Regions from separate parts of the Homo sapiens genome. Here all the other regions are reported to be linked to region 1. Evidence: microRNA targets listed by miRTarBase, many of them from high-throughput screens and not tested one by one. Region 1 holds a microRNA gene; each other region holds the end of a gene's coding sequence. Distances are from middle to middle.

Region 1 (4,067 bases):
GGGGCCCGCTGCGGGGCAAAGGTACCGGGGCTGCGGGGAGGGGGCCGAAGCCGGGGCGCCGTGGGAGGAGAGAAGGGGCCGGGATCTTCCCCAGGGGAGCCGCCGCCGCCGCCCCGGGCGGCCGCCTTAGCTGTGCCCGAAGCTCCCAGCCCGAGAGGGAGCAGGGAGAGAGTTTGAACTCAGAGGAGGCTCAGAGACGCGGGGCGGGGCCTGGCGCCTTTGGGGCGCTCCTGTTCGCTCGAGGTGAGGAAACTGAGGCAGGAATAGAGAGGGAACTCTTCGGGGGTTTCCTGGCAGGCATTGCGTGGTGCATGGGCGCCCCCCCACCATTGGCGCCAATGGGGCTGGGAGATGGGGGAGCTGAGGAGGGCGCCTATGGGCCACCCGCTGAGACTCCGCCCCACCCCCCACCCCCACCCCCCCGGGCTGCGGTCCGGTAGGGTCTTGGGAGGGGGCGCCGAGGTGACAGCAGGCTGGGGAGGCTTGGAGGGATCTCCCGCCAACACACAGCTACGTTCCCCACAAACTTCGCGTCACGCGTGGAGGCGCCGACCCCCTCGGAGGCACAGAGAGGACGGCCGGCACTTCCAAGAGTCGCTTGGCGCCCGCGGGGAGAGTCGTGCGCCTAGTGGGCACGCACCACCCCGCAAAGCCTCGCCGCCCCGACGAGGCTGCGTCCCCCAGCGTGGCTGGGCCGGGGTGGGGGGGTCTGTCTTCTCCTTTTCCCCGTGTGGACCTCAGGATCTGGACGCTGCCCCCAGGTCTGCCCACCCTCGCCTGGGTCTGGCTGCCCCGGAACTGAGGGCAAGGTGGAAAGGCTAGTTGCAGGGGGCCGGAGGGGGGTGGGGTGGGAGGGGTATCTGTCAATCAGGCTGCTGGGCTCCAGGTCGGAGGTCTGGGCGGGGCAGGGCAAACAGATGGCCACTGGACACTGGCCCCAGGCCGCGGGACTGCACCCCTGCCTCTGGGCCCAGCCGCAGTGAGGACTTCGTACCCACGGGGGTGGAGAGGATGGAGGGAGGGCAGGGGTGGACTGCCCTGGGTCCCAGGCCCTGGCTGTCCTGAGCAGGGGTGCTCAGGTAAGGTGGGGTCAGGAGGCACCGCAATGGGGCTGATCAGCAGCAGTCATGGAGGCTGTGAGAGGCAGGGAGAGAGCACCCCAGGACCTCCTTCTCCAGGCCACGCACTCCCTATGTGGGCGCCTTAATACCTGCTAGACCTATTTGTCTGGGAGCTGCAGGAGCCTTGCAGTTGATTGTGGAGCCCTGACAGGGGCGTTTCAGAGAAAGTCAGGAGCTGCCTTCGTGTGTCTGGATGAAGGGGCCACGGCAAGATCCTCCTGGCTCAGGGGTTCACACCTGGGCACACATGCAGGATTCTGCAGGCCAGTGTGCACCGAGCCTCCAACTTGTGCCTCCCTACTTCAGGTGACCAGAAGTCAGCAGCTTCCCAGAAGCCCCGAAGCCGGGGCATCCTCCACTCACTCTTCTGCTGTGTCTGCCGGGATGATGGGGAGGCCCTGCCTGCTCACAGCGGGGCGCCCCTGCTTGTGGAGGAGAATGGCGCCATCCCTAAGGTGCGTGGGGGCCAGGTGGGGCCACGGGGGCACCTGGACTCAGTCTTCAGGGCTTTAGGGGAAGGGGCTCCTGACTGAGCTTTTCAGGATGGACTTGCAGACCTGAAAGGTGCAGAGTAGGAGGGTGGCAGCCTCCCCTGCCAGGCCCTGCCCACTGTGGGGAAACTGAATTCTCCCTCATAAGTGGAAGCTTTTTCCTACCTTGGTTTTTAGAGAGGTCTCAAAGAGCCAAGAGGCCTACCCAAGCCCTAGAGCTGGCAGGGGCAAAGCTGGGAAGGGGGAAGTATCTGTTCCTGGGGCCTGGGGTTCCTCTGGAGACGGCTAGGGGGAGAAGCCTGCGTGGGAGGAAGGACCAGGCCCGGAGAGAGGCACCCCAGCCAGCCCCGCCCTCCCTACAGCAGACCCCAGTCCAATACCTGCTCCCTGAGGCCAAGGCCCAGGACTCAGACAAGATCTGCGTGGTCATCGACCTGGACGAGACCCTGGTGCACAGCTCCTTCAAGGTGGGCCCTGCTCAACAGCCCTCAGCCCGGGTCTCGGGGGGCATCCCCCACCCTGGCCTGGGAGGGAGGTGTGTGCTGGACCCCATGCCCTGGGGCTCCTCCTCCAACTCCAGCAGCTCTTTTCCCCCCACAGCCAGTGAACAACGCGGACTTCATCATCCCTGTGGAGATTGATGGGGTGGTCCACCAGGTGAGGGCCAGGAAGAGGCAGTGGTGGGCTTGGCATCTGCCTCCAGACCCTAGGCTCTTCCCACCAATCCGGAGCGCCTCGGATGGGAATTGGATACATGTGGAATGTCAGAGGCCCAGAGAGGGTGTGAGACTTGTCCCAAAGTCACACAGAACCTCAAGGGCTTGTGCTGACTCCAAGCCTGCAGAGTGGGCTCCTCCTCTAGGCTCCCCCGTGCTGTGCTCCCTCGCCCCACCCTGCCCGGGACCCAGTTCAAGTAATTCAGGATAGGTTGTGTGCTGTCCAGCCTGTTCTCCATTACTTGGCTCGGGGACCGGTGCCCTGCAGCCTTGGGGTGAGGGGGCTGCCCCTGGATTCCTGCACTAGGCTGAGGTTGAGGCAGGGGAAGGGATTGGGAATTAGGGACCTCGTGAGGTAGGACTGGCCAGTGGAGTGGAAGTTTTGATCGTTTTCTGGCGGGGGGTGGGTACAGTTTCCCCAGCAGTGGTCAGGGTAGCTGGCCAAGCGGAGCCTGCGGGCCCAGTCTCCTTCCTGTGCGCCTCTGCCTCCCTGGCCCATGCCCTGCCAGCCCTCGGCCACCCCCACACTGCCCCACTGGCCCGCAGCCCCCTCACTGGCCCGCCCCCCAGGTCTACGTGTTGAAGCGTCCTCACGTGGATGAGTTCCTGCAGCGAATGGGCGAGCTCTTTGAATGTGTGCTGTTCACTGCTAGCCTCGCCAAGGTGAGCCCCACAGGGGTCCCGGGGCAACCCTGCCCTCCTACCTACCTCCCGCATGCAGCCCAATGAACCTGCGGGCCCCAGGATGACCCACCTCCTGCTCCCAGTACGCAGACCCAGTAGCTGACCTGCTGGACAAATGGGGGGCCTTCCGGGCCCGGCTGTTTCGAGAGTCCTGCGTCTTCCACCGGGGGAACTACGTGAAGGACCTGAGCCGGTTGGGTCGAGACCTGCGGCGGGTGCTCATCCTGGACAATTCACCTGCCTCCTATGTCTTCCATCCAGACAATGCTGTGAGTGCGGGCTGGACTGGGACTGGGACAGGAGCTGAGACCCAGGAAGGGGTCAGTCCATTCAGGCCACCTTGGCCTCTTGGATCCCCAGTTGGGGGGTGGGTGCCCTCCCAGTCCTTCCTGCATTCATTGCCTGTGCCTGCCGCCCACTCCCCTCATCCACCTGCCCTGTAGCCATATGGTCTTTTCCCCTCGCACAAAGCAGAGCATCTGCCATGCACAGGGGCCCCCACAGGGCAACGGAGTTTGGAAAGTTTCAATTTTTCGAATTGCCAGTTGTGACCTACTGATGGCCCACAGAATTAATTTAGTGGGTTCTGATTGGGAATTTTAACAAAATGAAATAGAATAGAAAATATCCGGTCGGGTGCAGTGGCTCATGCCTGTAATCCCAGCACTTTGGGAAGCTGAGGTGGGCAGGTAGCTGAGCCCAGTAGTTCAAGACCAGCCTCGGCAACATAGTGAAACCTTATGTCTACAAAAAATACAAAAACTAGCCAGGCGTGGTGGCGCATGCCTGGAGTCCCGGCTATGCAGAAGGCTGAGGTAGGAGTATCACTTGAGCCCTGGAGGCAGAGGCTGTGGTGAGCCAAGATTGTGCCACTGCACTCTAGCCTGGGCAACAGAGCAAGACCCTGCCTCAAAAAAAAAAAAAAGTATCCGAGTGCTTCGCACAGATAAGGTTAGGAATTGTGAAGCTTTTGCATTGTTACGTTATAAATGTGTTTTCCTGGGGATTGCTGTCAAAAAAGTTTGAACACTGTGGGTGAGGGGTTTTCAGAAACT
Region 2 (4,067 bases), not on the chromosome of region 1:
GGCCAGGCTGGTCTCAAACTCCTGACCTCATGATCTGCCTGCCTCAGCCACCCAAAGTCCTGGGATTACAGGAGTGAGCCACCGCGCCTGGCCAAAAAAGTTGTTTTAATTAAAAATATTTTATTTTACTTTTTAAATTTAAATTTATTTTTTTGAGATGGAATCTCCCTCTGTCACCCCAGCTGGAGAGCAGTGGTGCAATCTTGGCTCACTGCAATCTCCGCCTCCTGGGTTCAAGTGATTCTCCTGTCTCAGCCTCCCAAATAGCTGGGATTACAGGTGTGCACCACCACACCCAGCTAATTTTTGTATTTTTAGCAGAGACGGGGTTTCACCATGTTGGCCAGGTTGGTCTCGAACTCCTAACCTCAAGTGATCTGGGTGCCTTGGTCTCCCAAAGTGCTGAGATTACAGGCATGAGCCACTGTGCCCGGCCAAGAATAACATTTTAAATTAAAAAAAGAAACAGGGTCTCACTATGTTGCCTAGTCTGGTCTCAGACTCCTGGGCTCAAGCGATCCTCCTGCCTTGGCTTCTCAAAGTGCTGGGATTATAGGCGTGAGCCACTGCTCTAGCCCCCCAGTATTTTTTTTAAAAGTAGAGACAGGGTCTTGCTATATTGTCCAGGCTGATCTCAAACTCCTTGGCTCCTCCAGTCTCAGCCTCCCAAAGTGCTGGGATTCACAGGTGTGAGCGACTACGCCCAGCTTCCTCCCTCCCTCCCTCCCTCCCTTCCTTCCCTTTTTTTTTTTTTTTTTTTGAGATGGAGTCTTGTTCTGTTGCCCAGGCTGGAGTGCAATGGCGCAATCTTGGCTCACTGCAACCTTTACTTCCTGGGTTCAAGTGATTCTCCTGCCTCAGCCTCTCAAGTAGCTGGGACTACAGGCACGCCACCGCCATGCCCAGCTAATTTTTGTATTTTTAGTAGAGACGGGGTTTTGCCATGTTGACCAGGCTGGTCTTGAACTCCTGACCACAGGTGATCCACCCCTCTCCGCTTCCCAAAGTGTTGGGATTACAAGGGTGAGCCACCATGCCCGGCCTTGGCTTATTTCACGGAGCGTGACATCTTCAAGGATCATCCTGTTGTGCCCTGTGTCCAGATTCCCTTCCTTTTCATGGCTCAGTAATATTCATGTACGGATGGAGTACATTGTGTTCATTCATTCATCTGTCTGTGGACACTTGGGTTGCCTCTACCTTTTGGCTGTTGTGGGCTGTGCCCCCATGAACATGGCTGTGCAAGGATCTCTTTGAGTCCCTGCTGTGAATTCCTTGGGGCCTTGCCCAGGAGCAGGATTGCTAGGCCCTATGGTAATTCCATGTTTAATTCTGAGAAACGGCCAGACTGTTTCTCGTCAGGCTCACTGTGTTCCATTTCCCACCTCAGAGCATAAGGGTTTTGCTCTCTCCACATCCTGGCCAACCCTTATCATCTTCCGTTTTTTGGTTGGTTACCCTGTGGCTACTGTTCCCCTTCTTGTTTTGTTTTTTTTTTTTTTTTTTTTTGAGATAGGGTCTTGCTCTGTCGCCCAGCCTGGAGTGTAGTCATGCAATCATAACTCATTGCAGCCTCAACTTTCTGGGCTCAAGGGATCCTCCCACCTCAGCCTCCCGAGTAGCTGAGACTACAGACATGTGTCATCATGCCTGGCTAATTTTTTGTAGAAACGGGGTCTCACAGCCGGGCATGGTGTTTCACGTCTGTAATCCCAGCATTTTGGGGGGCCTAGGCGGGTGGATCACCTGAAGTCAGGAGTTCGAGACCAGCCTGGCCAACATGGCGAAACCCCGTCTTTACTAAACATACAAAAATTAGCTGGGCGTGGTGGTGCATGCCTGTGATCCCAGCTACTTGGGAGGCTGAGGCAGGAGAATTGCTTGAACCTGGGAGGTGGAGATTGCCGTGAGCCGAGATCACGCCACTGCACTCCAGCCTGGGCGACAGACCGAGACTCCATCTCAAAAATAAATAACTAAGTAAAAATAAATACAGAAAAATAAAAACAGAAACGGGGTCTCACTCTGTTGCCCAGGCTGGTTTCAAACTCCTGGGCTCAAGCAATTCACCTCCTTGGCCTCCCAAAGTGCTGGGATTACAGGCATGGGCTACCACGCCTTGCTAATATTTTATCATTTTTTGTAGAGATGGGGGTCTCACTATCTTGCCCAGGCTGGACTGGAACTCCGGGGCTTAAGTGATCCTCCCCCCTCAACCTCCCAAAGTGCTGGGATTACAGGCATGAACCTTTCTTTTTTTTTTAAAAGAACAATAATGCCCAAGGTATCTGGGCTGCCAGGCAGGGCTTCTGCTGTCCTGGAACCACCTCCCTCATGTCTCTGTCCTGTCCTGGACTATTTTGGGCACAGTGACCGGCAGATCATCCTTACCACACTCTGTGCTTATGGGGAAGGAGAAGCCTTGGCAAGCCACCTCTTCCACGTCATCCTCCCATTCCATATCCACTCCTGCTTCCCCTCCAGCACGGAGACCTCAGACCCTCCCTGTGGCCCTGGACTCGACCTGGCATACACCACACCGTTCAGCACACATTTTGCACAGAGGGGCAAATAGTAAATATTTTTGGCTTTGCAGACAGACCTTCTCTGTCAGGGTGACTCAACATGCTATTGTAGTACTAAAGCAGCCACAGGGCTGACACGTACAAATGGCAGGGGCCGGGTGCCAATAAAACTTTATTTATAGGCATTGAGAAAAAAAATTTTTTTGAGACAGGTTATCGCATTGTCACCCAGGCTGGAGTGCAGTGGCCTGATCATAGCTCACTGCAGCCTCAACCTCTTGGGCTCAAGCAATCCTCCTGTCTCAGCCTCCTGTGTAGCTGAGGCTACACAGGTATACCACCATGCCCAGCTAATTTTTAATTTTTTTTTTTTTTGAGACGGATCTTGCTCTGTCACCCAGGCTGGAGTGCAGTAGTGCGATCTCGGCTCCCTGCAACCTCTGCCTCCCGGGTTCAAGCGATTCTCCTGCCTCGGCCTCCCAAGTAGCTGGGATTACAGGCATGCACCACCATGCCTGGCTAATTTTTGTATTTTTAGTAGAGACAGGGTTTTGCCATCCTGGCCTGGCTGGTCTTGAACTCCTGACCTCAGGCAATCCGCCCTCCTCGGCCTCCCAAACTGCTGGGATTACAGGCGTGAGCCACTGCACCTGGCCTGACGGATCTTAGACAGAACACGGTAGACACCAACAGTTAAAAAAACAGGACCCAGTTTACTACTGAAGCTGCAGCGAGGTTACAGAGGCGTCTTGGGGCTCAGTCCCTGAGCTCCGGGACGCCCAACTGGGAGTGGGGCCTCCACTCTCCTACGTACAGACACCCCCATAGGGAAACGCTCACATGCTGTCCTGCTGGGACGCTGCAGGCCTGGCCGTTCTGTGGCCGCATCCGCGTCCGGGTCCCTGTGTCCTGGCTGGGCGAGCCGGGGAGGGGGCTGATTCCTGGGAGCGGTTCAGCAGCGAGTTCTGAATGTCTTCCAGGACTTCACGGAAGAGCTCCTCTCGGGACTTCATGCCGTCCAGGTAGACTGAAATCAGAAAGGCTGCGTCAGGGCTGCCGGGAGGAAGGGGGCCAGAGCACGGGGGGACGAGTGGACGGCTGGGTCAGGAGCAAGGAGATCTGCAGAGTCGGGCTGCTGGAGTCAGTTTCCTGGACCAACAGCAAGAGGGGGCCGGGCGCGGTGGCTCACACCTGTAATCCTAGCACTTTGGGAGGCCGAGGCAGGCGGATCACGAGGTCAGGAGTTCGAAACCAGCCTGGCCAACAGGGTGAAACCCCATCTCTACTAAAAATACAAAAATTAGATGGGTGTGGTGACGCGCGCCTGTAATCCCAGCTATTCAGGAGGCTGAGGCAGGGGAAAGGCTTGAACCCGGGAGGCGGAGATTGCCGTGAGCCAAGATCGCGCCACTGCACTCCAGCCTGGGCGACAGAACAAGACTCCGTCTAAACAACAACAACAAAAATAGCAAGAGGGACTGGGGGCGAGGCTCACGGAGGAATGTCCAGGTTTCCAAAGGTCCTGAGTGGGGAGTACTGAAG
Region 3 (4,067 bases), not on the chromosome of region 1:
AAGATTTGAAAAAAAAAGATTCTGTGGACTTCCATTTTAGTTTCATTTCATTATTATTGTGGTTTGTGCAGTTTTCATAATTTTTTCTTTCTTTTTTGTTTTAGGTATTAAATGGCTCTTTTTCTTTGGAATTGGTCAGTGAGAAATACTGGAAAGTGAACAAACCCATGGAACTTTATTACGCACCTACAAAGGAGCACAAATGAGCCTTTAAAAACCAATTCTGAGACTGAACTTTTTTATAGCCTATTTCTTTAATATTAAAGATGTACTGGCATTACTTTTATGGACAGATCTTGGATATGTTGTTCAATTTTCTTTCTGAGCCAGACTAGTTTACGCTATTCAAATCTTTTCCCCTTTATTTAAGATTTCCTTTTTGGAAGGGACTGCAATTATTCAGTATTTTTTTCTTTCCTTTAAAAAAATATATCTGAAGTTTCTTGTGTTTTTTTTTTTCCCCACAAAGTGTGTTTCCACTTGGAGCACCATTTTGACCCAGGAATTTTTCATAGTTTCTGTATTCTTATAAGATTCAGTTGGCTGTCCTTTTCCTGCTCCCCTCAAAAGATTTTTAGTCATACAGAATGTTAAATATTATGTATTCTGACTTTTTTTTTCCCCCGGAGTCTTGTATATTTATAGTTTTCTATATAAACTGTAGTATCTTCATGAAGACCCAAGGCTCAAATTTACTGTCCTTAAAAACAATTCTCATAGGATTATTCTTTTCATGGTATTTTCTTCCATAATATCTCATTTTAAAAAGAAGTTCTTTATGAACTTAGTGTCCATTGTCATGCAATGTTTTTTTTTTTCCATTCTTTTTCCCTGTAATTTTGGAATTTCTGGTCCTGGGAAGAATCAAACAAAATCTTAAGTTCTATGAGAACTTGGTTCATTGACATATTCTGCTGAAGAAAGAAAAATTAAATTGGTAGTAAAATATAGTCTTCAAGTATACGTTTGAGAGTGCTTTTTTTTGTATTAGTTCTGCTGTCACTTCATTTCCTGTATTATATGTGATGTTTTTCCCCATTAAAATACCAGAGATAATGGAGATATTTTGCACTTTAGCCTTGATGAAAAGTACAAGATATGTTCAAAGCTTCCCTAATTTTTTTCTTATTTGTAGCCACATAAGTTTCAAGAATAACATGGCACACAGAACAATGGAAAAAAGTTTGTTTCCATTGGAAAATTATATCATTTTGGGTTGCCACATCAGTTTATAAATTTGGCGCTCTTTTAATTACACTCTGTAGAAGGTTAATAGAGCTTGAGCCCTGCTTTAATATGTAGTGAAAGATAATTCTGTAGAAAAACGTCAGCCAGTAGGGTAAAGTCATTCTACTGTTCTTAATTTTTATATTGAGGAACAATATTGGGTGTTTGGGAGCCAGAAAGCTTTGTTGACAGATCAGAAATAAGATTGACTTGGGTGTTATATTTCATCTCTCTCCAGACTCTAGGTATATTTCCAACTTTATATATCACAGTATTTAAAAAGACATGTTTGCATTGAGAAATTAACCCTAAAGGGTTTTCAATAGGGTGTAGACCTCCAGTACCTTTGTAACTAAAGTCTGTCTAGTCATTGTAAATATTTATCTGTCAGTTTTGACAGATTGGGGCCAGCTTGATGTTTTAAATCTTCAGCCCGGTATGAAAACTTAAAGGTATATATTCAATTTTTTACCATTTTATGGAAAATATTTAAAATCTGTTTTTACAGGGTTTTTTTTTTTTTTTTTTTTTTGTAATCTGTGCCATGAAATTTGAAAACCACCAAAAATCAAGGGAACTTTTATATATTCAATTCCTTTTCTGGTGTAATGTTAAAGTTGTATAGATTATTAATGCATGCCCACTGAATATAACCCTGGTTTTGTGATAAAACTGCTTAGATTTTGTTGATGACATTAGATTAGTAGTTGCATTAAATAACTAAATTCCCATTGTGATTAATTGAAATTTTGTCTTTAAGCAGAGAGTTATTTGTGACTATAAGCTTTGTGCTTAGAGAATGTATGTGTTTTTATCTGTCAGTATGGGAGGATATAAACTGCATCATTAGTGAAATTATTGGTTGTGTAATCCTTTGTGAAATATAATTCTAGGTATTTGATAGGGTATTGAGTGTATTTTGTGTGTGTGTGGATGTGTGTTTTGGGGTACGGGGAGAGGCGATGCTATTGGCCATCACTACCAACCAGGGTTTCAAAAAGTATTACCTAAGTAATTTCTTTTATCACTATCTCAACTGAGGAAGAAAAGGCTCACCACAAGTGGTGTGAAGGCTTTGGGTACTTAGTTCTAAATTTTTTTATGGTAACATATACATAGCCACATTTACAGTTTTAACCATTTTAAGGCATGTAATTCAGTGGGGTTAGGTACATTCACAATGTTGTGTAATGATCACCGCTGTCTACTTGTAAAACTTTTTCATCACCCCAAACAGAAACTCTGTGTGCAATTAAAGTAATGCATTTCTCTTCTTCTTAACCCCTAGCAACCTCTATTCTACTTTCTCTTTTTGAATTTGTCTATTTTAGGTGCCTCATGGCACCTGTGGAATCACACATTATTTTCAAGGTTCATGTGATAGCATATATCAGAATTTCATTCCTATTTATGGCTGAATAATATTGTATGTATGTGCCACATTTTGTTTATCCATTCATCTGTTGATGGAGACTTTTGGTATTGTGAATAATACTGCAGTGAACATTATTATAGAAGTATATAATTGAGTTCTGCCTTCTGTTATTTTGGGTATATATGAAGGAATAGAATTACTGCATCATATGATAATTCTATGTTTAATTTTTTGAGGGACTCCAAACTGTTTTCCATAGCAGCTTCATTATTTTACATTCCTGCCACCAATGAACAAGCGTTCTGGCTTTTCCGTATCCTCTGTAACACTTGTTATTTTCTTTTCTTCTTTTTAAAATAACTATATTAATGGGTATCCTTATGATAGCTGTCTTACTGGATGTCTCCTTTCATTGTGGTTTTAATTTGCATTTCCCTAACAGCTTGTGATGCTGAGCATCTTTTTCTGTACTTGCTGGCCATTTGTGTATTTTCTGTGGAGAAATGTGTATGTGTATTCAAGTCCTTCACCCATTTTTGACTGGGTTCTGTTATTGTTGAGTTGTGGGCATTCTTTATTCTAGTTAGTAATCCATTATCAGATACATGATTTGCAAATATTTTCTCCCATTCTTTGGGTTTTCTTTTGATTCCCTTGATAGTGTCCTTTGATGTACAGAATTTTTTTTATTTTGGTGAAGTCTAGTGTATCTGTCTTTTTTCTTTTGGCTATGCTATTGGTGTCATATTCAAGAAGATTGCCAAACCCAATGTCATGAAGATTTTCCTCTTTTAAGAGTTTTATAGTTTTAGCTCTTAGTCTTTGATCCATTGTGAGTTTTGTATATGGTGAAAGGTCAGTGTCCAGCTTTGTTCATTTGTATTTGGATATCCAGTTTTCTTAGCCTTTTCTCCACTGAATGATCTTGGTGCTCTTGTTCTAAATCATATGTGAGGGTTTATTTCTGGATGTTGTATTCCATTGGTCTATATGTTTGTCCTTATGCCAGTACTACACTATTTTGATTACTTTAGCTTTGTAATAAATTTTGCATTATATCATTTCTAACCCTTTGAACCTTAGGAAGACAGTATTTCCTTTGTGTACATTTGAGAAGACAAAGGCTCAGGATTCTGATTTGGATAACTAAATGTGAAGTAACTGAAATGCCAAGTGAGAAAAGGCATCTCTTAAATTCCCATTTCTATTCAGAAAAGTTTAAGTTTCCCCCAAAATAGCCTCAAAACTCCCCAAAAATCACACTCCAGTGAATTATCACTCTTGGCCTTTCTGGAACCTCACTGAAAAGCTCTTTTTCTCTGAGCGTGTCTTTGACTGGACTCAGCTCACTTTGCTTAAAAAGCTCTATCTTCATGGTGTTTGTAAAAAATCGTTCCTGCCGTTGTTTAACACAGCAGTTGCCTGAGGCATGTGGGCCTAAAAAGCAGCTGACTAAAAAGTAGGA
Region 4 (4,067 bases), not on the chromosome of region 1:
AGACTGGGTGGCTGACGGGATCACGGGTCTTTTACTAGAAAAAGGAGGGATTGTGGGGGAAGGGGACACAGATGATCCACTTGGCTTCTGACTTGTTGAGTTGATGGTGCTGCCGTGGGAGCAGATGGGGTGAGTGTCCCTCCAGCGGGTGTAATCCCAGCCTAGAGCTCAGGAGAGGGCTGGGTTGCAGAGAGGAGCTGGGGCAGGGGCAGCTTAGGAAGTTGCAGCCGGGTCTGAAGGCAGGTGTGAGGTTGCTGATGGAGAGTGCGGAGGGACTCAGGAGAGGACGCCAGTGTAAGGCATGTCCATGTGGTGGGACAAGGAGAAGAGAGGGGAATACTGGTCAGATCTACCTTGATTCCTTTGTCAATCAAAGTAGGGGTTTCAATAAATAAATAATAAATAAAAAAATACATACATATATAAATAAATACATGGTTGAGAGGGATTGGGAAAGAAGGAGGAAAAAAACACAAGAATGTGGCATTCTGGGTGCCGAGGGGCCAGGGAGCGTCTAGGAGGGGTCGCTGCAGAGCCAAGTGGCGTGGAGAGCTGGGAGGTGAGAGGGGCAATGTGGAGGCGCTGGGACGCTGCTGCCAGGCTGGGGGGAAGCCGAGGGGCATCAAGAGGAAGGGCAGTTGTGGGTGCTGGAGGCCCTTCCTGCGGCTAGTGGAGGAGGTAGGGAAGAGGCGGCAGGAGCCAGCCCAGGTGGAGTCAGTGTGTGCTGATGTGCAGAGGCAACAGAGATGGACGAGAGAGGGTGAGGGTGTACAGGAAACGTTAACTGGTGGGGATGACGTTTCTCAGAAAGGGGAAGGAGAAGAGATTTTCAGGGTAGATCTCATTTCAGAAGGCTCCGTCTCTTCCATGAAGTGGAATGACAGGGGCCTGTTGGGGCTTGAGGTGAATGGAGGTCGGAACCACTCGGGTGGCTGATGGCGGGCAGGCTGGGTATCTGACAGGTGGCAGGAGGTGACAGAGGGGTGCCTGTCAGCAGTGAGGGCTGGCTGAGGGTGGAGGCCCATTCTCCCGGGATGCCTGTGACCCTGCAGTTACAGCAGAGGATCTCGGGGCCGGGTACAGACTGTGTGACTCCCTGGGGCCACCCAACACCAGCTGGCCCACACCAGGAACTGCAGTGGAGGCTCAAATTGAACTCTGAATGGGCAGGGAAGGACAATTGGCCCAGATGGAGAAGGACAATGAGCCAGAGAAAGCCAAGGCCCCTGGAGCTCCGCCATCAAATGGCCAGGCCATTTTGGTAGTGCAGGACTCAAGCCGAGGAGGGGAACGGTGCACATGTTGATTGTCCTGGGGTCTCTAACCTTTCTCCAGAGAGAACCTGAAGGCAGGGTGGAAGGACTCCTTGCACTCCAGCTCATATCAGCTTCAATTTTAGGAGCCATGACTAAGATAGGCAGAAGGAAAACCATGTTCTGGTCCCCCAAGGAGTTCTGGCCCTTTGACTCCCCTGCAAAGGGATGGTGGGGTGCTGGCTTGGTGGATAGAGCTCAGGGCCAACTCCAGAACCTGACATGTAGGTTCTCCACAGTGCTTACCATGAAACATTCTGGAATCCAAGGCCTTGGTTAATCCACCAAGGCCCTGCTGGAAATTCTACCTGCTCCTCGGGGCACTTCAAGCTTTAGAAATTAAATGTCTTCTACGGTCTTTGAGATCCTCAAGATGAAAGGCTCTGGAGATGTATAAAATATGGTATTAATTATTTCCACCGCCTGTGAGGAGTCCGAAACCACTCAGTTCCCACAGAGGCTATTAGGGCTGTTGCTTTTTAAAATATTCATTTTATAACGCAAATCCCCAATCACAGACTTCAAGCAACAACAAGGGAAAATGCAGAGATATATCACCTTCCTCACGGTTTTGGGCTGGAGTGTTCTTGTGTAGGGTTAATGGTTCTGCCGCCTCCAATCCCTTCCGGTCAACCATTAATTTAGAGCCAAGGTCCTGTTCTGCATTGCCATTGATTAATTACATCTGGTCTCATATGCTTAGGAGCAGGTCTTGATTACTTTTCTTAACTCCCTTCACCTTCAAGATGGTAGTTTTTTACTTACCTTTCAAATATGTTTTAAAACACTGTTATTCATCAGGTGAAGGAATACGACTAACAAATTCAAGCTGGCTATTTCTCTATGTGAGACCTGTGATTCCAGCCCCTAAGTTGTAGGCCTCGAGCCCAGATTTCCCTGGGAGATTATGTCCACTATTTGGAACTGCATTTGGCTTTGGGTATTTTTTTTTTAATCTTAAATATTAATCTCAATAAGGGGAAAAGAATTTTGCAAAATTCTAAAATTGCTTCTGTGGGAAGAGGCGGGTACCTGGGGGTGGGGTGGACATTGGAACCTCTCCCTGCAGAGATGAAAACCTCAATGTCGGAGCTTGGGGTGGGCTAGTGTGACCATCAGGGTAGGAAAGTGACAAGAAAGTAACATTGACACAGCAGTCTGGCTGCAAAGGCCCCGCAGAGTGCAGAATGCAGAAGGCAAACAGAGAGTGGTTGCAGGGACATGGAGCTAGATGCTGAACATTCTTTCAGGTCTCACACTCTGGGGCTCTGTGAGGCACCCAAAAAGGCAATCATATGTATTTTAAGAAGGATGACATTTATCTTGACAGCACCCTTTCAAGCTCTCATTGTGGCTTCCCTGGTGACAGAGGGGACAGTACAGTCCCTCGTGACATTCTAACAGGGTGAGACAGAGACTAACCCAGAGGGTGAAATCCCAGGGTCTCTTCCTCCTCAGTGGACTCACATTGCTTTAAAAAACACCCAAAGCAGCTAGATTTTAGACACTCTCCTGCCTTATTCTAGGGTCAAGTGGGCCCTTAACAGGAGGTCTTGATTTTTCAAAAACATGATTCGGAACATTACTCCTCTTCATTGTCATCTGCTTGCTTCACCCAAAGTTCTTGGTGGCTCTTGCTAAGCCAGAACATGAACCATCCATTGTGTCTCCTCCAGCCTTCTCTCCATAGCCGTGGAGGCCTGTCTGAAACATGTGAGTCATTCGTGCTGTCCCTTAGGCAGTCAAACTCTACGTTCGTGGAACGAGGCCCTCTGTGCTGATGGGGCCTCTGCTGCTTGGTTTCCTTGTGCTCCTTTGCCCGGTTGAAGTCTCCAACCTCCCTCTCCTCCGTGAATGGCACCCACTTTAGACTGGGTCGAGTGTCCCCTCTGGGCCTCAGCTTTCTCCGAATCCACATATCCCAGAGGCTTGGGGCAGCTGACAACAGGTGGCTCGCCATTCATCCATGAGCCCAAAGATCCCTCCAAGCCAGGAGGCAGTTTGTCATCCAAAGTCATGGGACTGGCTTCTTTTCATGTCAAGTCCTTCCACCCCCAAAGATGGATTGAGTCTCAATCTGGTTCAGGTGGGTTCTCCACACCTTCTTCCTGTGGCCTATCTGCCTAATGCTAGATGAACACCACACAGTTATAAATACTCAGGTCAATATATATATGCAGGTATAGATATATATATTCTGGTCACTGTTTTACACTTTAACAAAGAAAACCACTAGCCTGCTTGTTCTATTGTTTGTGCCACCCCGACTCCCATCTGCCTGTGGTGTAGCTGGCAGGAAATGTGAGCCACTGAGTCCCATGGGGTGCCCACCCTACGTGGCCCCATCGCACTGGCCGACAGTCAGTTTCAAAGCCCCCTGCTCATGTAGGCTCTTGAGGGCCTTAAACTCCAAGGGCATGGTATGCGGGCTGGCCTGGGAGGTGTAGCCATACTTGAGGCTGTCATAATAGTGGTACTTGACTGGGTTCTGGTTCTGATCCAGCGGAAAGGGCCAGAAGCCGTAGAGGTAGATTTGTTTGCAGAAACGTGTGGCCAGGGTATACATCAAGAGGCCGGTGGTGGGTCTTTTGATGTGGACTTTGTTGGTCAGCCAGTATCTGGAAAAAAAAAAAAAAAAAAAAAAAGAAAAGAAACATGGGTCTGTGAGTCATCCTTTCCAGGAAGACAAAAATTTTATCCTGCCCAGCAGCCTGCCTTCTGCCACTCCAGGGACCGATCAAGCTACACATCCCT
Region 5 (4,067 bases), 180 Mb from region 1:
AAACAGGAAAATAAGAAGTCATAAAATGCTAAGTATTCTGTGATGAATGTACTTTTTCATTCAGGTAAACTCATTTTTTTATTTAGGTAAAATACAAATAAATACCTAAATTTTATTTAGGTAACCCTCTCTGTTAAAAAACAAATGGATCAAATGCTATCCAAATTACCTAAAGTGGGAGGCGGGGGTATGATTAAATAATATAAACATATTTAAAAACTATTTTCAAAAGGATGTAATATAGGTAGACAAAGTATCCAGAAAGATACAATGGGCACAACCTAAAAATATTTAAGTCTAAGGATGGAGGTAATCTGGGCACTGGGAAATCAATTAAGTATATATAGAAATGATTCAAATGCCTTCCCTCAGCAAGAATTTGCCTATTCTATGTCTACCACAGTTGGACACTAGATTAGTTTGGATCTACAGCAAGAAATAAAAATGATAGTGGTATATCTTTAATAGTTTTCATAGAGAATACTGACATCCTATTCTAGTTCCTAGTAGTAGGAGGAAACAGAACATTAACTAAAGGTACTGTCTGTCTCACTGTATCCGTTTTAAGAGATAACAGTTTAAGATATCATGTTAAAAATTCTCTCCTAATATTTTTCGCTTGTTTCTCCAAGAAATTCTCATATGCCCTATATTCCAGTAAATCATTATTTACAAGTTAAGGTTAAGAATGCATATAAGATCAAAAGATACTCTCTATACAAAACCTAAGAACTTTAATATAACAATAAAACTAACTGGTGGTTTGAAATATCCTGTTTCTAGAGAACTTGATCTATGTTCAAGAGAAAAAACTCAATTCTTTTATGGTTTCAGAATGGGGAGAGGCGGGGGAGGAACAGCAAACGCTGGTAAGGTTCCAGAGAAAAGGGAACACTTATACACTGTTGGTGGGAGTGCAAATTAGTTCAACCATTGTGGAAATCAGTATGGCGATTCTTCAAAGAGCTAAAAGCAGAACTACCATTCGGCCCAGCAATCCCATTACTGGGTATACATCCAGAGGAATATAAATCACTCTACCATAAAGACACATGCACGCATATATTCACTGCAGCACTATTCACAATAGGAAAGACACGGAATCAACCTAAATGCCCATCAATGACCAACTGGATAAAGAAAATGTGGTACATGTACACACCATAAAATACCATATAGCCATAAAAAAGAATGAGATCCTGTCTTTTGCAGGAACAAGGCTGGAACTGGAGGCCATTATCCTTAGCAAACTGACACAGGAACAGAAAACCAAATACCACATATTCTCACTTATAAGTGGGAGCTAAATGATGAAGACGCATGAACACAAAAGAGGGAAACAACAGATAGGGGTCTACTTGAGGGTGGAGGGTGGGAGGAACTAGAGGAACAGAAAAGATAACCTTCGGGTGTTGGGCTTAATACCTGGATGATGAAATAGTCTGTACAACAAACCGCTGTGACACAAGTTTACCTGTATAACAAACCTTCACATGTACCCCTGAACATAGAAGTTTTTTAAAAAATAATAATGTTGGGGGAAAATCTAGTTTGAAGCAGGAGCTGCAGATTTCAGAACTATCAGGGCGAAATGTATCATTTGTGTTCTTACATCCTTATATTCGAAAAAGCAATCTATTAACCGTAAAGATAAATCAAAATATTTTTCAAAAGAATGAAACCTGTATTCATTAGCTATATTGTGGAGTCTGAGGCTACAAAACAGATCAAAGCAAATACTAAATATAAATACATCCTAAGATATGATACATTTAAAATATGAAACCTTGACAATTTTAATAGGAAATCCTATATAAACATAATTACTTAACAGTTTAAAGAAACCAACACAACATTCAAGACAACTTAAAACCTTAACTTACTTTAATGATAAAACACTTGAAATTGTCTTCAAATTTGAACATTTTAAAATAATTGTAAATGTTAGCTGAAAAATAAACAGGTAAAGTTAAAAGGATCAATGTGGGTTTTCAAAGATGGTTTTAGTATTAGAAGAATGTGCTTATCTCAGTAGCAAGTAGATTATTTTAAATGGCATGACATGAGTTGATTCTTTAAAAAAGCCCAATTTAGTAGAAAGGAAATACAATTTCTCTTTTGATAAACATATTTATATTTTCAGTTACTTCCTTTTTTAAAAAAAGTCCCCCAATCTTAGGAAGAATGGAGAAGCAAATAACAAAAAAACCCTAAAAACATTTTTGCCTAGTATGTGTAGCAACAGCTACACCCAGTGGCCAGAGATGAGTGGTGACGGTTTCTAGCTATATTATTATAAAAGGAAAACCTGGAAAGAGCCATTTTTCCATTTATTTAAGGTTTTAGGATAAAAGTCACCTTTCACTAAAATTAGGTTTTAAGGAAATACTCAAGAATCTTTGGGAACAAAAGCCTTAGCTCATCAGCTTGACGCAAGAGTCCAGAATAATTCAGTAGCTAAAATAAAACTCAAACCAAAGAGAGAACTTAACAGATACTTTATTGCTCACCTTTCACACAAAGCACACCTCCAGCCATTTTCTTTCACAGCTTGACAATGTTTACATGTACAAAAACCCAGCAAGAAGCATCATGTCATGTAGATTTCAGTAAGGGAGAATGTAAAACATCAACTCAGCCAGGCTTTTGTTTTCTGCAGCAATAATAAAGGGCCTCCTGCACTTAGCAAAAATCTGTCTTAACTTTGTAGTGCATTTCTTCCATTACAAAAAAAGTTACCTGCTTAAAGCAAACTAACTTGTATTTGCTGAGCCAGTGGTATTAACTCATGCATAAAACAAATTTCGGTTTGCTATTTCTTCTAGCAAATTTCAAGTAAAAATAAGGTTGAAGGAGGAATTTGTTTTGGATGGATGCAGGTCAGTTTGAATTGCTATACTTAACTAAATGCCTACATGTACTATAGCTTCACAACTTAGTTTGCTTTTATAATCTTTATGGATTTTGGCCGTGTTCAAGGTTTTCAGAGTTGAGCATATGATACAGTATTCCATCAACAAAATAAGGCTACTGAATGTGCTATCTGCAAAAGAGCTCATTTAATAGGAACTGACCTAAAAGTTCCATCATGAAGCACACGTGGCATAAAAGTCAACCGGGGGGCAGAACTGTGCTTGGAAAATAGGCATTGGAATACTTTAAGCAAAACACATATAAATGGTTATTCATATGAGGAAGGTTTCCTAGTAGTAAATCTAAAAAAGTCTAGGTGAATCCTCATTTTCAAAACTGCATATTGAAAACATGAAAACTACTTATTCAAGTAATTTCTTCAAAAAAGTTTGCATGTTCTGACTGTGGAATTAGTCTACTGGGCAATTAAAGGCAATTTTAACCACCTTTTAAAAAATTTTTCATAGAAAGGAGAGATGTTATGTGTTTCTCAAATAAACGGCATTATGTAAGTCCAATAAAAAAATCTAACAGAATTGAATGAAGACCTACAAATGCTTATGCCAAGCAGGAATCTGCCTGCCACCTGTGGTCTCACATTAATTCAAAATAGGTGCTGAATTCAGGATTCTGAAACTAAGTTTCTATTACTTGAGCTCTAGCAAAATGTAAGGTTCGGTAGCCTCAACTAGTGTAATGTCTTCCCTGTCCAAATCCAGAATGATTATACTGATAACCTCCATGCTGGAAATGCTGTTCAAATTGACCCCCTTGGTGATAATTCTGGCTCCCTCTTCCTCCCCAGCCTCCTCCCTGGCCTGCACGACCACCTCGGCCTCCACGACCACCTCGCCCACCACGACCACCACCACGATCACCATGGTGCCCGCCATCTTGGTATCTATTGTCCTGCTGGTAGCCACCACCCTGGTATCCACTTCCTGTATATGAAGAAGATGTTTGGAAGCCACCATAACCTCCGCCTTGATAGCCACCACTGCTGTGGCCACCATGATAGCCACCTGGCTGGAAACCTGAATCTCGATAACCACCATCTTGGTAGCCACCTCCTCCACCACTCCCTCCATCTGTCCAGCCTCCTTGATGCTTATTTCCTCTTCCTCCCCCTCGGCCACCATGGTCATAGCCACCAC
Region 6 (4,067 bases), not on the chromosome of region 1:
TATATGCGTAGTCTTAATTTTTTAAATGTGCTCACTAGAAGCATTTATTTATTTGCTATATTTTAAGAGTGACTATAATACAGACCAATCCTGTGCATTTTTTATATATAGGAATCCATTAGAGGACACACTCTGATTAAAAATTAAACAGTAAAAGGTAAATCAAAGACATCATTTTTCTGCTAATATGTTTAGGTGTTTTTTAAAAAATAATAAAATGTGCTCTTTTTTGATACAGAAGGTGTATTTGTGTGGACAAGATGAGGAGCATAAACATTGTGAAGACTACGTTTGTTCGTATAACTATGAAGGCAAAGGTTCTCTGGCCGGCTCAGTAGGTTGCTGCAGCGATCGGCAGGAAGAAGAGGGACTGGAGTTTCTAGATCACCTGGAACCCAAATTTAGGACATTAGCAAAGACATGCATCAAGAAATAAATGTGCCTTTTAATAGTGTAATATCCACAGATGCATAAGTAGGAATTTATTACTTGCAGAATGTTAGCAGCATCTGCTAATGTTTTTGTTTATGGAGGTAAACTTTGTCATGTATAGGTAAGGGTACTATAAATATGAGATTCCCCTACATTCTCCTTGTCTGGTATAACTTCCATGTTCTCTAGAAATCAAGGTTTTGTTTGTTAATTCTCTTTTATATGCATGTATATATTGCCCTTTTCACGACTGTACTGTACACCTTCTTGCACCTTTTATTTGCAAACTGATGTTACTTTTTGTGCTGTGGAAGAGCATTTGGGAAAGCTGGGTATTATAGAGGCCAATGAAAGATGAATTTGCATTGTAGATGTACGAATTAAATATGTTCTTCAAAATCTTGGGGAGAATTATGTTCTTAGAACATAGTTGGTGCCAGATAATTGCATTCTCTCCACCTGAGTGGTTTAAAAAGGACTTTTAAGTATTCTTCAGTGCAATCTTCAGTTTTGTGATTAAGTTCATTTCTCTTTTACACTTTTGTACTCCTCAGAGCAGTGCTCCCAGCATTGTTTTCTTTCAGGATCCTTCAGAGCTCAGTCCCTGGACCTCTGCCCATGTGGATTTGTTGTTAGGTCACTCCAACTTCTAGGGTTCTTGGAAAGATAAGGACCAGAACAAGCTCATAGCAAATTGAGGGGCAGAGATTTTATGAAGATTACATGAGAAGATTTCCATGAAAGAATTGCAGCCCTGAGGTCCATGGGTTGACTTATGCTCACAAATATGTTTCGTTTGCTCAACATGGTTTACTACTAACATTTTAAAAATATAAATACTTTAGCAAAAACATTCACTCTTGAGTTTGACATAGGCCTGCCTTATCTGTGGTTGCCACCTGCCATCTCCAAGCATTTGGACAACTAGCCCTGATGCATTAGGCTGCAACTCTGATATACAGAGACTAGCACCTTGAATATGCCAGAAATTGAATTACCATCTGTATTAGAACTTAAGACTCAGCCTAAATTTACAGTTACTTTAAGAAAATGGGCAGTCAGAATTAGGGACTAGAATGTATATGAGAAACCCCCACTCTACTAAAAATATAAGAAATTAGCCGGACATGGTGGCGAATGACTGTAATCCCAGCTACTCAGGAGGCTGAGGCAGGAGAATCGCTTGAATCCAGGAGGCGGAGGTTGCAGTGAGCCGAGATTGCCACTGCACTCCAGCCTGGGCAACAAGAGCGAAACTCCGTCTCAAAAAAAAAAAAAAAAATTGAAATCAATTACAGCAACACTTACCAAACATTTGTAGAATGATGAATAAATGAACGCACACATTCAGAAATAATTTTGAATGTATAACATTTTAATAGGATAGTATATTTTATTAATCTAAAAAGAAACTATATATTTAAATAGCATTTTCGTAGTCATTTGTGGCAAACTCTATAAGTCTATAAACAATAACAGTATGGAAATTTCTCATCCAGAAAAAACAAAGACTTAAAAAAATCTATTAACTAGATATTTTCTAACTAGTTAACTATTTTTAAAAATGAGTGGCTTTTTAAAAAAATTTTGTGACTAGTCTTCTAATTCTCAGTTCCAAATTAAAGGCGCTTCTTGATATGAAATTGGATATTGGATCAGAAGAAAAAAGTGATTTTAATAAATCAGATTTTATAAGGTATCCATAACATATAATTTTTATAACCATTATAAAATATTTTTGTGGTCATGCAATTTTTGTTCTCTGATGTACAGGTTGCTCTGATAATATCAGTTCTAAAATTTTAAAATATAATATAAATTTGGACATTTATCATAAAAAGTTACATTCTTGAATGTAGGTACAAAATGTTCTTGGAGTAATTAAAAATCATTAACTGAACCTTAACTTTAATTGTACTTTTATGTTCAGATATACATTTTCTTTCCCATAATTAAGCAAGTGAAAAGAAATATGAAGACAAACGAACATATGTAAGTTAAATTTCAGCTAATGATTTTTAGTTACTCCAAGAACAATTTCTACCTACATTCAAAATGTAATAATTAATATCCAGAGGTAGATAGCTCAGTCAGCAAGAGAAGATACTCCAAAAGCATTTGAAAAATTATTAGAAAGTGTGAGAAATAAATTTGTATTAAACAGTTTTGGCCATTTAAAATATTTTCAAAATATCATTAGAGTTTATCTCAGAGAAACTTTGACTGTCTTTTGGTTTACTTAGGCAATTCAAAATCATTCTCTGTTTACTCCCAAAATTAAATGTTAATTGTATGTTTGATAAAATATGTGACACTCTATCAGATTGCTTACAAATTTCATTTGTTAATAAAAGATTGCATTTCATGGATTTATTTCATAAAACTTAATTGTCAGTTAATAAGTTAATAGTTATGACTGGTTTTTCTAGAATTAAATCAGTATTGAGGAAGATATACAGTTAAATTTTCTTATCTTATTTCAGATCTCAAATATTTCATGTGAAAAAATTTCATGAGAACACCAGGGTAGATGAAAATCAATGTAATTTTATAAGTGAGCTTCATTAGACATGTCCTAATTTTACTGAACTTCTGCTTACTCCTGTGTTTATTAAAAGTATTTCATACAACTTGACATCTATGCATATATTTACTTTCAGAAAAGTCATATGCTGTGTTATTTAGAAAATGCTCAAAATAGATGTTTTAGAGTCAAAGATTTTTATTATCACAGAAAAGCCCTCTTTTTATTGCATGGTAGTTATGAAAGTTCTGTACTAGTTGAAAAACCTAAATGAAATTAGGGTAATGAAACAAACAATGTATATTGCTGCATTTTTCTACTCTCTTTTATCTGCTTTTCTAATAAATCTGAAGGAGTGTTGCATTTGACTAGACACTGCATTTGTCTTTCTGCTTTTGTAGAAAAGAAGAAAATAAAGAAGTATAGCAGAAGAAAACGTTACTAAGAATGGATAGATTCTTGCATATTTTATAGGGCCCAATAAAATTAAGTTAGCGTAATTTTTCAAAACTCTTCAAAAAAATGTTTACATAAAAAATAAAAATCACATTATATTACCTCAAATCCTTACTACCAAAACCAAAATAACTTTTTAAAAATAGTTATTTTAAATAGACTAATTTAAGTGTATTAGAAGGATTATAAAAACAAATGTGTGAAGTGCATTTATAATATATATCTTATGAAGTTAAGTCTTTTATTATTTTAAGATATTCACTTCTTAAAGTAAGTTTTTTGATTGACCGAAATAAAATATCCTTTCATAAATCAATCTACAGAGTTAGCAGTTGTTTATTCCCTAACTTTAGAGAAAAAAAAAACAATGAAAGACAAATGTGGTTTTCCTGTGGTCTGCATTTGCCTGAGAATATGTAGGATTTCAACATTTTAAAAATTTGGTTGTCAGTGTGCAACAATTTGATACCTGTAACTGTGGAATTCTATTTGTCTATGTTTAGAGACTTCTAAATGATATACTGTGGAATTATTAACACTAAAAAAACTCAAGGCTTCATTTGAGATATCTGAAGTTTTAATTTGCCTAAAATTAATGTTATTTTCTACCAGGTAGAGTTCAAGAAAAACTAAAAGAAACCCTCTAATCAAAAGT
Region 7 (4,067 bases), not on the chromosome of region 1:
AGCCTGTGCCAACATGACGAAACCCTGCCCCTATAAAAAATACAAAAGCTTGCCAGGCACAGTGGCTCATGCCTGCAGTTCCAAGTACTTGGGGCTGAGGCAGGAGAATTGCTTAAGCCTGGGAGGACAAGACTGCAGTGACCTGTGATCACACCATGGCACTCCAGCATAGGTGAAAGAGTGAGACCCTATCTTAAAATAATAACAATAATAATAATAATATAATTCTTGCTTTTTTTTTCAGCTGCTACTAAATATGAACCTGGATCCTATATAGCTTCTCCTCTAGGATTTACACACAAGGAAAATCTGAATCAAGATCCAGTTTTGGAAGTAACAAAAGAATATGCACAGATTTTAAGAAGAAAATACATACTCTGAAAGATAAGGCAATTTTATTTGGGCTATTCACATGATATTTTGTTTCCCATTAAATATATGATGTGAACATTTTTACTAAAGGGAAATATTCTATATTATACATGTCTGATGAAAATTTATATAGTATTTTAAATAATGTTTCTTGGCCTCTTCAGCTAACTTTTAAGTGGATTTTGCAAATGAAAACCAGTATTACTGAGTTTTACATACTCGAACTGCCCAAATGTTTGCTGTTTAAACAGCCAAATAATCAAGTTGCCATTAGTAATTTAGTGGAGCCAATTGATGGCTTGTTTGTATTTTATAATTTTATCTTTATACATAGTGATAGATTTAAGTTTAGATAGACATCATTTTGGTATACTGGTACTGTGGTCATTGTCAATGTTTGGATGTATTACGATTGTTATAGTGCAATCAAACTTAGATAATTTTAATTTTAAGCACTGATTTATTTAGATCTTTCCTTGTGGAAAAATAAGGTTTGCCTAAGGCTTTTTGCTTTTTTATTTATTGTTTCATTTCTTTATTAGATTAACTTTTGGGAAACAGTCTTAAAATTGGAGAAAATTTCCACATTTTAGGAAAAACAGCTTTCCCCCTGTGGGCCATTTGAGAGTAAATTGCTGACATTATGCCATCACATCTGGTATGTGGGTATTCCCACAAGTCAGGACATTTTATATAACTACTTCATAATCGGAAAGTTAACATCAATACACTTGATCATTTAATTCTCAGTTTCTTTTCAAGTTTTCTTAATTGTCTATAATGTTCTTTGTAGCAGAAGGATCCCATTCAGGTCCATGAATTTCATTTAGTTGTCATGACTCTTTCAGTCTGGAACAGTTCCTCAGTTTTTCTTTGACCTTTATGACCTTAAATCTTTTGAAGAGTAAAGTCCAATAATACAGAATGTCCCTCCATTGGATTTCTCTGAACTTTTTTTATGATAAGATTTAGATGATAATTTTTTTTTTGGCAAGAGTATCACAGAAGTTATCCCATGATCTTCTCACTGCATTCTATCAGGTGACCTGCAATTATTATTATTTTTTATTTTCATCTTTTAAGTTCAGGGGTACATGTGCAGGATGTGCAGGATGTCCAGGTTTGTTACATAGGTAAATATGTGCCATGGTGGTTTGCTGCACAGATCATCCCATCACCTAGGTATTAATAATAGCCCAGCATCCATTAGCTGTTCTTCACGATGCTCTCCCTTCTTTCACCCGCCACCATCCCACATGCCCCTGTGTGTGTTGTTCCCCGCCATGTGTCCATGTGTTCTCATTATTCAGCTCCCACTTGTAAGTGAGAGCATGCAGTATTTCATTTTCTATTTCTGCGTTGGTTTGCTGAGGATAATGTTCTGCAGCTCCACCCATGTCCCTGCAAAGGACATGTCTCATTCCTTTTCATGGCTGCATAGTATTCCATGGTGTATATGTACCACATTTTCTTTATCCAGTTTATCATTGATGGGCTTTTAGGTTGATTCTTTGTCTTTGCTATTGTGAATAGTGCTGCAATGAACATACGTGTGCGTGTATCTTTATACTAGAATTAGTTATATTCCTTTGGGTATATACCAAGTAATGGGATTGCTGGGTTAAATGGTATTTCAGGTTCTAGATCTTTGAGGAATCACCACACTGTCTTCCACACTGGTTGAACTAATTTACACTCCTATCAACAGTGTAAAAGCATTCCTGTTTCTCCATAATCTTGCCAGCATCTTTTCATTTTTTTGAATTATAGCCATTCTGACTGTTGTGAGATGGTGTCTCATTGTGGTTTTGATTTGCATTTCTCAGATGATCAGTGATGTTGAAGTTTTTTTGTTTGTTGGCTGCATGTATGCCTTCTTTTGAAAAGTGTCTGTTTGTGTCCTTTGACCACTTTCTAATGGGGTTGAGTTTTTTTTTCTTGTAAATTTGTTTAAGTTCCTTGTAGATGCTGGATATTAGACCTTTGTCAGATGGATAGAGTGCAAAAATTTTCTCCCATTCTGTAGGTTGTCGGTTTACTCTGTTGATAGGTTCTTAATGCTGTGCAGAAGCTCTTTAGTTTAATTAGATCCCATTTGTCAATTTTGGCTTTTGTTGCAATTGCTTTTGGCATCTTCGTCATGAAATCTTTGCCCTTGCCTGTGTCCTGAATGGCATTGCCTAGGTTTTCTTCCAGGATTTTTATAGTTTTGGGTTGTAGATTTAAGTCTTTAATCCATCTTGAGTTAACTTTTGTATATGGGTTAAGGAAGGGGTCCCGTTTCAATTTGCTGCATATGGCTAGCCAGTTCTCCCAGCACCATTTATTAAATAGGGAATCTTTTCCCCATTGCTTCCTTTTGTCAGGTTTGTCAAAGATCACATGGTTGTAGGTGTGTGGTCTTATTTCTGGGTTCTCTATTCTGTTCCATTGGTCTATGTGTCGGTTCTTGTACCAGCACTATGCTGTTTTGGTTACTGTAGTCTTGTAGTATGTTTGAAGCTGGGTAGCATGATGCCTCTAGCTTTGCTCTTCTTGCTTAGGATTGTCTTGGCTATTTGGGCTCTTTTTTGGTTCCATATGAATTTTAAAATAGCTTTTTCTAGGTCTGTAAAGAATGTGAATAGTAGTTTAATGGGCCTAGCATTTAATTTACAGATTGCCTTGGGCAGTGTGGTCATTTTCACGATATTGAACCTTCCTGTCTGTGAGCATATGTTTTTCCATTTGTTTGTGTCATCTCTGATTTCTTTGAATAATGGTTTATAGTTATCCTTGAAAAGGTCCTTCACTTTTCTTGTTAGCTGTATTCCTAGGTATTATACTCTTCTTGTGGCAATTGTGAATGGGAGTTAATTCATGAGTTTTCTCTCGGCTTGCCTGTTGTTGGTGTATAGGAATGCTAGTGACTTTTGCACATTGATTTTGTATCCTGAGACTTTGTTGAAGTTGCTTATCAGCTAAGAAGTTTTTGAGCTGAGATGATGGAGTTTTCTAGATATAGGATCATATCATCTGCAAACAAAGATAGTTTGACTTCCTGTCTTCCTATTTGAATAGCTTTTCTTTCTTTCTCTTGCCTGATTGCCTTGGTGAGAATTTCTAATACTGTGTTGAATAGGAGTGGTGAGAGAGGGCATCTTTGTCTTGTGTCAGTTTTCAAGGGAACGCTTCCAGGTTTTCAGGTACTCAGGCAACAAATAGCGTTACAATAGAATAGTACCTCACATCTCAATGCTAATGTTGAACGTAAATGGCCTAAATGCTCCACTTAAAAGATATAGAATGGCAGAATGGGTAAGAATTCACCAACCAAGTTGCTGCTGTCTTCAGGAGACTCACCTAACACATACGGACTCACATAAACTTAAGGCAAAGGGTTGGAAAAAGACACTTCGTCTAAATGGACACATCAAAAGCGAGCAGGAGTAGCTGTTCTTATATCAGACAAAACGGACTTTAAGACAACAGCAGTTTTAAAAAGACAAAGAGGGACATTATATAATGATAAAAGGACTAGTTCAACAGGAAAATATCACAGTCCTAAATATATATGCACCTAATACTGGAGATCCCAAATTTATAAAACAATTACTACTAGACATAAGAAATGAGGTAGTTGGCAACACAATAATAGTGGGGGATGTTAATACTCCGCTGGCAGCACTAGGCAGATCACCAAGACAGAAAGTCAA

The links. Region 1 holds the annotated microRNA hsa-miR-26b-5p (UUCAAGUAAUUCAGGAUAGGU, at 2,521-2,541, shown strand). A microRNA usually pairs through its seed, bases 2 to 8, with sites in the 3' UTR of a target mRNA and lowers its output. Matches are read on the target gene's strand: a 7mer-m8 pairs with bases 2 to 8, a 7mer-A1 pairs with bases 2 to 7 and ends in A, and an 8mer does both.
Region 2: miRTarBase lists NMRK2 as a target of hsa-miR-26b-5p. The part of its 3' UTR that is shown has no 7-base or 8-base seed match.
Region 3: miRTarBase lists RNF2 as a target of hsa-miR-26b-5p. The part of its 3' UTR that is shown has no 7-base or 8-base seed match.
Region 4: the mRNA of ST8SIA2 is a reported target of hsa-miR-26b-5p. The part of its 3' UTR that is shown has no 7-base or 8-base seed match.
Region 5: miRTarBase lists FAM98A as a target of hsa-miR-26b-5p. Seed matches in the 3' UTR shown: 8mer at 3,279-3,286 and 8mer at 2,831-2,838.
Region 6: the mRNA of DSC1 is a reported target of hsa-miR-26b-5p. The part of its 3' UTR that is shown has no 7-base or 8-base seed match.
Region 7: miRTarBase lists CCDC144A as a target of hsa-miR-26b-5p. The part of its 3' UTR that is shown has no 7-base or 8-base seed match.

What each region holds. Positions count from the first base shown.
Region 1 is chr2:218,400,137-218,404,203 of GRCh38, forward strand. It overlaps MIR26B (microRNA 26b), which reads left to right and starts at 2,510; the gene lies at 2,510-2,586. It overlaps CTDSP1 (CTD small phosphatase 1), which reads left to right. Exons shown (of 7, transcript NM_021198.3): 1 at 1-21; 2 at 1,428-1,576; 3 at 1,975-2,079; 4 at 2,213-2,269; 5 at 2,899-2,991; 6 at 3,096-3,281. RefSeq lists a silencer at 20-179.
Region 2 is chr19:3,941,568-3,945,634 of GRCh38, reverse strand. NMRK2 (nicotinamide riboside kinase 2) reads right to left here. Exons shown (of 8, transcript NM_170678.3): 8 at 3,219-3,552. The coding sequence ends at 3,362. Among named protein-coding and RNA genes, the nearest start is that of NMRK2, 11 kb to the right of the region's middle.
Region 3 is chr1:185,100,096-185,104,162 of GRCh38, forward strand. It overlaps RNF2 (ring finger protein 2), which reads left to right. Exons shown (of 7, transcript NM_007212.4): 7 at 105-2,508. The coding sequence ends at 206. Among named protein-coding and RNA genes, the nearest start is that of TRMT1L, 55 kb to the right of the region's middle.
Region 4 is chr15:92,463,964-92,468,030 of GRCh38, reverse strand. ST8SIA2 (ST8 alpha-N-acetyl-neuraminide alpha-2,8-sialyltransferase 2) reads right to left here. Exons shown (of 6, transcript NM_006011.4): 6 at 1-3,931. The coding sequence ends at 3,646. Among named protein-coding and RNA genes, the nearest start is that of C15orf32, 5.7 kb to the left of the region's middle.
Region 5 is chr2:33,581,179-33,585,245 of GRCh38, forward strand. FAM98A (family with sequence similarity 98 member A) reads right to left here. Exons shown (of 8, transcript NM_015475.5): 8 at 2,482-4,067. The coding sequence ends at 3,598. Among named protein-coding and RNA genes, the nearest start is that of RASGRP3-AS1, 14 kb to the left of the region's middle. RefSeq lists an enhancer at 2,271-3,090.
Region 6 is chr18:31,126,883-31,130,949 of GRCh38, reverse strand. It overlaps DSC1 (desmocollin 1), which reads left to right. Exons shown (of 16, transcript NM_024421.2): 16 at 239-1,714. The coding sequence ends at 436. The region is part of intron 2 of DSCAS (DSC1/DSC2 antisense RNA); the gene reads right to left. Among named protein-coding and RNA genes, the nearest start is that of DSC2, 26 kb to the right of the region's middle.
Region 7 is chr17:16,773,253-16,777,319 of GRCh38, forward strand. CCDC144A (coiled-coil domain containing 144A) reads left to right here. Exons shown (of 17, transcript NM_001382000.1): 17 at 245-4,067. The coding sequence ends at 381. Among named protein-coding and RNA genes, the nearest start is that of FAM106C, 14 kb to the right of the region's middle.